2 separate regions of the Homo sapiens genome follow, and region 2 is linked to region 1. Evidence: fine-mapped expression QTL. A gene starts in region 1. The other region holds a variant in brackets. All regions are shown on one strand. Distances are from middle to middle. Region 1 holds the start of GPR155 (G protein-coupled receptor 155). Region 2 overlaps WIPF1 (WAS/WASL interacting protein family member 1).

Region 1 (4,394 bases):
TTGGAGCCCTTAAGACGGTGTGTACTTGGAAAGGCAGTGCTAAACAGGAAAGTGATAAATTAATCCAGTCTTCTGTTCACTTTCAAAAGTGCCTAGAGTATTAATAACTCATTCTGCTTATAAGCCCTTACTTGTACAACACGAGCATGTCAAGGCATTCCAATAATATTTTTTAACCAACAGTTTAAACTAGCAGAAGTTCAGTGGAGAGTCAAACAGATTCTGAGCTTTATGGTTTATCAACTCATAAGTTACTTAGTCTTTCTGAACCTTTGTTTCCTCAACTGTAAAATGAGAGTAAAAACCTCCCTATAGGGATCAGTCATAGCAGCTCACGCCTGTAATCCCAGCATTTTGAGAGGCCCAGGCAGGTGGACTGTGTGAGCCCAGGAGTTTCAGACCAGCCTGGCCAACATGGCAAAACCTTAGTCTCTACAAAAAATTAGCTGAGCTTAGTCATGCGTGCCTGTTGTCCCAGCTACCTGGGAGGCTGAGGTGGGAGGATCACCTGAGCCTAGGAGGTCTCTGCAGTGAGCCATGATCACACCACTGCACTCCAGCCTGAGTAAGACCCTGTCTCAAACAAAGACCTCCTTAGAGGGATATTGTGTGGATAGAATATTTTATATACAGCTTATCACAGAGTAGGCCTTCAAAAAACGGCAGCAATTGCTATTAGGAACTGTTGTCTTACTACTAATAATGATAAAAAAGTAAACATGTTAGTTCTTCAAACATAACTGGTAAAAGATCCACCAACTAAAAAAAGAGGGATGGGATGCGTCATAAATTTATCAGTTTTTGTTTTATACCAAACAATTAAGATAAGTTGAATTTAATTTGGTTTGATAGTAAATGGTTAACAGTGAAGGCAGAGCTCTTCATTTTTCTCAGGGTGATGGTCAAATAGTTGTAGCAATGTCCAAGATTAACTTTCAATTCGTTGAAAAATTAAAAAACAAAAAAACAAAACAAAAAAAAGGGCCGGGCGCAGTGGCTCACGCCTGTAATCCCAGCACTCTGGGAGGTCGAGGCGGGCGGATCACCTGAGGTCGGGAGTTGGAGACCAGCCTGGCCAGCATGGTGAAACCCTGTCTCTACTAAAAAGACAAAAATTAGCCGGGCTTGGTGGCAGATGCCTGTAATCCCAGCTACTCGGGAAGCTGAGGCAGGAGAATCTCTTGCACCCGGGAGGCAGAGGTTGCAGTGAGCCGAGATCCTGCCATTGCCCTCCAGCCTGAGCAACAGAGCAAGACTCCGTCTCAAGAAAAAAAAAAAAAAAAAGCAATCTGCCCCTCCCCATGAGGTTTCTTTTAACGTTTCTCAGTATTATAAAAGAAATACCTGCTGAGGTAAAGTCAAAATAATCAAAATGACTTTAAAAGTTTCATTTCATCCTAATCTTTTTTAAACGGGAAGATAATATGCTTTCTAAAGCATATTTTAAAATGAACAGGAACCACAGCAAGGGAAGTTTTAAAAAAAAAATTACATCCAGCCTTTTTATCTATAAAAACAAAGCTTGTTACAGAACAAACACGTTCACAGTAAAAGACCACTCGCTGAGGCACGAACTGAAGAAATGCTACTGTACTTACAAACCGCTTCTAGCCACATCACATTTGGCTTAGATCACATAAACGAACCACTGATACTGTAAATAACTGCTATTAAGTGAAAATGCGGGGGGAAGGCGAGGGTTGACTAACTTCATAGAGAAAGCTTTAAACTCTCAGGCTATTTCTCAAACATCCAACATCCTTTATCCCGTGGGATAAGTGTAATACAGTGTGGTACTATTAGAGCACTCTTCAACATTAATAGTCGCACCATTCACCCACTCCTACCTACTTGCAGGGCGCCAAATGTCCTCCCTAGAGACCCAGGGTAGGGAGCGCTGAGCACTGCCTCCTTGCCTCGTCTGCAGGGACAGACTGTGGCCCTCCAAGATAAGGGGCGCAGAGAGTTCCTAACCGAATAGGCTGCTCGGAGAGCAGCTGCCAGCCAACCCCTGGGAAGGCAGCTGTGGAAGTGGAAAGGCAGCCAGGGGTCTTTGCCTGGCGTAAGAAAAAGGTGGTCGCTAGTCTTCCCAGGGCACGGGAGTCACAACGTCATGGTAACTAACATACCCCAAAAACGGGTAAGGGAGAAAATTTGGCGCAGTGCTCCAGGTGCCTGGGCAGAAGCCTTCGGAAGGGCCAGATACTGAGGGTACCCTCGGGATAAAGGGAAGAGTCTAAGAAAGACAGGGTGGACGCCCGTGCAGTGAGGAGCTTCCCAAACTAGGGATGGCAGTTCTGTCTCCGGAGGGGACGAGACACCCCCTCCCCCGCGCGAGCCTTCCCGGGTGATCTCACACGTTCCACAGGCAGGCGCTGCGGGGCAGAGACAGCAGGTCCAGACAACGGGCCGCGGGGCCAGGGCGCAGAGGGTCGGCGGCTGCCCACGTGCCCAGGCCTGAGGGGCAGAGGCAGGGGTACCCCGTGCCCGCAAGGGAGAACCAGGACCCAGCAGGTCCGCGCTCCAGGGGCCCCTCTCACCTGCTTCGTCTGCAACCTTGGAGTGGCGAGGAGAAGGGAGCTGGTGCTCGCAGGGTGCCAAGCAGGGAGAAGACCACCGTCATCTCCCGCCCCCAGCCCTCTTCGCCGAGCGCAACCGGGTGCCAGCTGCAGCAGCTTAGGCACGTTCCGATAAAGTAAGGTGGGGTAAGCCGATGCGGCCCTGTCAGCTCAGCCCCTCGCCGGCCGCGAGGCCCCGCCCCCGCCCCGCCTTCAGGCCCCGCTCCCTCCCAGCCCCGCCTTCAGACCCCGCCCCCAGCCCCGAACTTCCAGCAAGACGGGCCGCTTCCCGCCCTCGAGCCCCGCCCATTTCCAGGAGCCTTGAGCCCAGAGTCTCCGTCCCGCCCTCAGGCCCCACCCACAGCCTCGGGCCTCCGAGCCACACGTTCCCCAACCCCGCCTTCAGTCCCCGCCCCCTCCTCCAGCCTCGGAGCCCCAGGGTACCCGGCCCCGCCCTGCCGGCTGGGAGCCTCCCAGCCGCGATCCTCCGGGGCGGGACTTCCGGCTTCCCTGCTCCCACAAAATGGTAGCCGCCGTGGGGGATGTCCAGTTTTTTTTCCTCTTCCCAAGTACAGACGCAGAGCAGACTTGTCTTTCCGCTTAACCTCAACCTCGTGTGATCTGCCAGTTTCGCTCCCGGTTAGCCCAGGACTTTTTATAGCATAGAGTTTTAAAGCAAGGGCTTAGAATCAGACCTGGGTCAAAATCCTGCCTTCCACCTTCACCAAGGCAGTGTGACCTTGACGTTCCTACATAAGAGATTAAAATGTAAACCCTTAGCCCTGAGCTTGTTTTAGAATCTGGGCCCCGTCCATGACTGCTTCTATTCTATTGCGGTACGGGGGTGGGGTGGGGGTGGGGAACTACATGCATGTCCACTCAGTATACTGAAACTGGTTACATTGATGGAAAACTTCCAAAGCTTCTTGAAATAAAGGTATTGAAACTATCCTCACAGGGTTTATAAGAATTCTGGACAAAAATATAATTAAGCATTAATCAGGCTACACTTTGACCCACTTCCTTGTAACCCGAAAGTCGGGTAGAGCTAGATAGTACATTTGTATCCCGTTGTCCCTATAGATAGGCTTTCTGATGTTAAGAGTCGTAAGGCTTTTTAAGAATTGCTTAAAATGTTTTTCAGACGCCAAATTCCAGCGAAACAGCTGATGCCAGCCAGCTTGAAGACCCCTGCCACAGAAGAAGGGAATCAGCATGAGAATACAGCTTCTTCATCTCGCTGTCCCATGACTTCGCCCTGTACTCTTCAGCCAATTAATGATCTCCACACTTGGGACCACTCTAAAACCCTTAAGAACCTGAGACTCAAAGTCCTCCTGGAGACGAATTTGAGGTTTCCTCCTATCTGTGTTTGGTGGCCCTATGATTAAACCTCTTTCTCTTCTGCAACCTGGTGTCCCAGTGTATTAACTTGCCATGGGCATCAGACAACAAACCTATATATAGTATCCCAAATATGGTGCTCCACTTTGAAACCTGAAGAAATCCTGCAATTGAGTTAGCCTTTTGAAATAAAAATTATTTCAAATTTTAAAATATTTATATATGTTTCCACTTAAGATATCTACAAGCATTTGTTTACAACCTTTTATCTTGCTTTGCATCTTAAACATTTCTGTATGGCAATTTCCGTGTCTTCCTATCATCTCGGCCATCTTAGTGCAAAGATACAAAATTGTGTGGCTTATTAAGAAAAATTACAGTAAGCTAAGGGTAGGTTAAAGGATCTGAAACTTAGCAGGAAAAATGAGCAGAAATTAAAGCTATAAAAGGCATGGATCCTGCTCCAGTTCTCTTTGCTTCTCCTTTGTTCTC
Region 2 (4,394 bases), 73 kb after region 1:
AGTCACGGTGGGGATACCAGTTAATAGGTCATTTGTGGTGAAGCTGGTAAACAGTAAGTGCTCAATAAAAACTTATTAAATGAATGAATCAAATAAATAATTCCACTTTGAACAAACGAGGCCAGACTTAAAGCAATTTTTATTCCTAAAGATTCTGCAACTGAATTTTGTCAAGACTTCTTTATTTATTTATTTATTTATTATTATTATACTTTAAGTTTTAGGGTACATGTGCACAATGTGCAGGTTAGTTACATATGTATACATGTGCCATGCTGGTGTGCTGCACCCACTAACTCGTCATCTAGCATTAGGTATATCTAAAAATATGGAACGCTTCACGAATTTGCGTGTCATCCTTGCGCAGGGGCCATGCTAATCTTCTCTGTATCGTTCCAATTTTAGTATATGTGCTGCCGAAGCGAGCACTTGTCAAGACTTCTTTGCGTTTGAGAATTCTGTCATGAATATGGCCTAGGTTTGATGGCAAAATGATTAAGAAATGAAATGGAGTTAATTTTCATTGAGTGCCTAACATATGCCAGGTATCTTGCTTGAGTTTTGCATATTTACTTATTTATTTTAAAATTTATTTTTTTTCAATAAACCACCTACAAAGCTTCTGGATGTGTATTATTTAAGCTTTGTAACCATTTTGCACTTGAGGAAGCTAGAACTCAGACTTAAATAATTTGTCTATGGCCTCACAGGGAGCAAGTGGCAGAGCCAGAATCCAAACGCAGATTTGTGAGTGCACGGCTTTTGCTGTGACGCTGTAACCTCTCATTTGGCCTGTTCTTTCCAGCCAATGTGAAAGACACATAAAACAGTGATAGAGAGAGGGGCAGGAAAGACTATGAAGATGGGACAGTACAGTGAGAAGTCACATCATTTAGGGCCTTAAATTGCCCATCTGTAAGCCCAGACGTTTGGACTGGATGACCTCTGAGTGGGGTGACCACACGGCCCCATTTTCCAAGGCAACCCAGACTTATACCTGCTTTGCCACTGCAACTATTAGCACCCCTTCCACTCTCAAAAATGTTCCATTGTGGATCATAAATTCTAAGGTTGCCCCATCTGCGAAGTTCTGGCTCTTAATTTCTGTTATTTCATACTGAACCTAATAATACTTCTCTGATGACTGAAGCACGGTAAAATTTCATTTTCCAGGCCTGGAGGTACAGGGAGGATGGTAGGTGAGGTGACCCTTATGTAGAAGTTGCTTTGCATTTCTGATATGGATATTTTTTCAATCTAGGAGCTAGTGCTCCTTTCCTTTAAAAGTACACTAGTAGATCCCCTTCTAGTGGATTTGGCTCCAGTTAATTTGGGATCATTATATAAATATTTGTTTCCTACTTCACACTAATAGTGGCTACTCCTTATTGAGTGCTTACACTAAGGCTAAATGCTGAGTGCATTATCTCATTTAATGCATATATTAATGCTATAAGATAGTTCCTCACCTTATAGATAAGGAAACAGGTTTAGTGAAGTGACTTGCAAGTAAGACACGGAGCCAGGTCTTCCTAAGCTCTTAGCCATTCTTCTATATTGAGATCTGTATGTATACATACAGCAGATAATTAAGAAAGTTATCAGACTCCTAAATTCCCATTGGCCTTTCCTGTATTTATCAGTATCCATGCCAGTCTTTGTAATTTCATCTTCCATTGCTTCAGCCATCCATCTTTACCTCCTAGTACAAACATCTGCCTCAAGTAAACAGATTTTGACTAAGATGCAGATTCTCGGAAAAAACGAAGATGGGATTAGCAAGTAGGTACAATGAATATTTACTTACTTATACAAACCTTTTTTTGTTTGTCTTTCTTTTCCACAGTTTAAAACCGAAAACAGACACTTGTTTTTTTGTTTATATTTACATAAACAATACTTAAAAGAAAAACCACCAGTTGACACCATATCATTCTGCTTTTCTTTATTGTCTGGCTAACTTACAAAGATGCAGATGTCTAGGGTAGTCTCTACCCTACCACTTACACTATCCTGATGACACAGATAGCAAAATGTGTCTGTTTACATAGTGCATGGTATGAAAAAAAAGTTTTTCTTCCTCTACGGTCCTTGACTATAAGGAGGGAAAAATTAATTTCATGCCAACATTTTTGGGGAACTTTAACAATCATCCCATTTCTGCTACTAAAATAACAAAACTGGTATTACACTTTAAAATATAAAGACCTAACAGTTTTTACAAATATGCAAATAATCTACTACTTAGACATAAAAAAAAGTTGATTTCTTTTAAATCACAAAGTAAGGCACCATTGGATTAAACATTTCTCCTGGCTTTTACTAAATAAAATGCATAGTGAAATAAATACTGAACACTGAGTTTTAATACTGTAATACATTTCAATATAAAATAAGAGGTGAATGTTAAAATACTGTATTACATGTTGAATACATTTATCTGAAAATGTTATAAAAAAACACACATGTAAGCTCTGATTTCAGGGAAGAAAAATTCATTTTTGTAATTTTCCATAGTTTAAGATTTTACCACAGAACTTATTCATAGTTTTAGATGCAATTAGGTTGCAAACTTTCAAAGAAAGG[G/T]TGTAGGTGTATTAATGAAACAGTCACTTAAACACTACATTCTAAAACAATCTATTCTGGATGAATGGCAACTTTGAGCTATCACCCTGTTTCAGATTTAGAACGGTACCTGCCAAGTTCAGATATGCAAAGGAATTGTCCAATTCTTACTACCCCTTATAAAATTCAGACCCACTTTCTCTGAGTCAGACTTTTCTCCGTCATATTTTCTAGGAAGGGCAAATTCCATCTTTTGTGAAATGGGTCATTAGGCTTTATCATAGGGATGTTTTTCACTGTTGAAATCAGATAAAAGAATCCCAAATAAATGATGCTGCTAAATTACCAAACTGCTAGAGATTAAAAAAATTTTTTTTTAAAAAGCCAACACTTTGCCAAGCTTGTTATACCTTATTATTTCTTGATTCTCTTTGAGTAAAAAGCCCAAATGACTGTATGGAAGAGAGATGAATGGTAGAGGAGAGAGGAAACACAGGTTCTCTAATGTACTAAATCAGGACTTTGGCAAGGAAGTTATAGAAATATAATATATTCAAATCAGTAACTTCATAATTTATTAGACATCCCATTTATTAGAACTCTAAGTTCTTTTGCTTTTATATAAATGAAACATTTATTCTATAAATAGAAATGTATTTTTCAGAATTTTCTTTGGGTTGGTTTCTTGGTAGCATCTCCCAGTAATACATGAATAACATACTGAAACCATGATACAATGTTTAGGTAGATATACATATACATATGTGGTCATGTGTTTTTAAAAAACAAGTAATGGTAATTTTAAACAAAACCATGTAAAATATCTAAGTGGAAATATTTTTTCCCAACTCTATAGCTAGATTTAAAAGTCCCAGTAAAATTTTGTAAACAAAATCATATAAGAAAAGGCAAGGCTGGCTCTTCCCTATGGTCCTTTAGTGGAGCTATATTTGCATAGATCCTAGACAAATGATGCAAAACAAATTCCCTCCAATTTCCACTAGCAATCTCCCTAATTCGCTCAACCCTTACATAAGCATCAGATTTAGATTTTTAGAGTTTTGCCCACCAACTCAAATCGGTTCCCTTCTTCTTCCATGTTTCTGATTTGATATATTTTCCTGACTTTTTTCCCCTCCTACCAAGCCTTCCTAGTCTCTCCCAGCCTCAGGAGCTTGCTCAGCCAGAAAGGAACAAAGGCTGCTTCCATTTCACAAGGCAGAAGTCCAGCTGACAAGTGGAGTGCGTGAGCCAGCTGGTTCTGAGCCCAGAAGTCCCGACAGGCTTTCCATTTGTTTCCAATGGCTTTATTCCACATGACTTTAGTAAACCGTACTCAATCAATTTCTGACCTTGGTACTTTGAAGCAACACTTGTATACAGATATTAAGGGAAGAGGGAAGTTAAGGGAGGAAAATCGAAGGTCAAACTGTGTGTCAAACAAGGTGCTGGGTCCTAATTTTATTTTTAGTTGCCTCTTGAATCGCTCAAGCCCATCTTGCCTTTTTTGTTTTTTAAACAAGAGGTTTCTGCACTAGCTTCCATCTTCCAGACTCGTGCTGTCTAATCCAGTAGCCACCAGCCACATGTGGCTACTGAGCACTTAAAAATGTGACTAGTCTGAATGGAGATGTGCGGTAAGTGTAAAATACACTCTGGATTTTGAAGATTCAGTACCAAAAAATAATATAAAATATCTCATTAAAATTTTATGTTGATTACAGGTTGAAATATTTTGGATGCATATTAACTTCACTTGTTTAAAATATATTAGAAATGTAAAAATTGTATATGGGGCTCACATTATATTTCTATTGGACAGCTCTGTC

The links. PIP is the estimated chance that this variant, and not a neighbour inherited with it, causes the effect. A credible set is the group of variants that fine-mapping cannot tell apart.
Region 2: its variant is the best candidate, but not a certain one, in a credible set for the expression of GPR155 in whole blood (INTERVAL, PIP 0.60).

Annotation. Positions count from the first base shown.
Region 1 is chr2:174,484,333-174,488,726 of GRCh38, forward strand. GPR155 (G protein-coupled receptor 155) reads right to left here and starts at 2,697. Exons shown (of 16, transcript NM_152529.7): 1 at 2,541-2,697. GPR155-DT (GPR155 divergent transcript) reads left to right here and starts at 3,056. Exons shown (of 3, transcript NR_183819.1): 1 at 3,056-3,084; 2 at 3,703-4,394. RefSeq lists silencers at 2,212-2,394, 2,658-2,837 and an enhancer at 2,248-2,317.
Region 2 is chr2:174,557,644-174,562,037 of GRCh38, forward strand. It overlaps WIPF1 (WAS/WASL interacting protein family member 1), which reads right to left. Exons shown (of 8, transcript NM_001375834.1): 8 at 1,931-4,394. It also overlaps the pseudogene RNU6-5P. Among named protein-coding and RNA genes, the nearest start is that of WIPF1-AS1, 15 kb to the right of the region's middle. The variant G/T (reference allele first, on the strand shown) is at 2,587.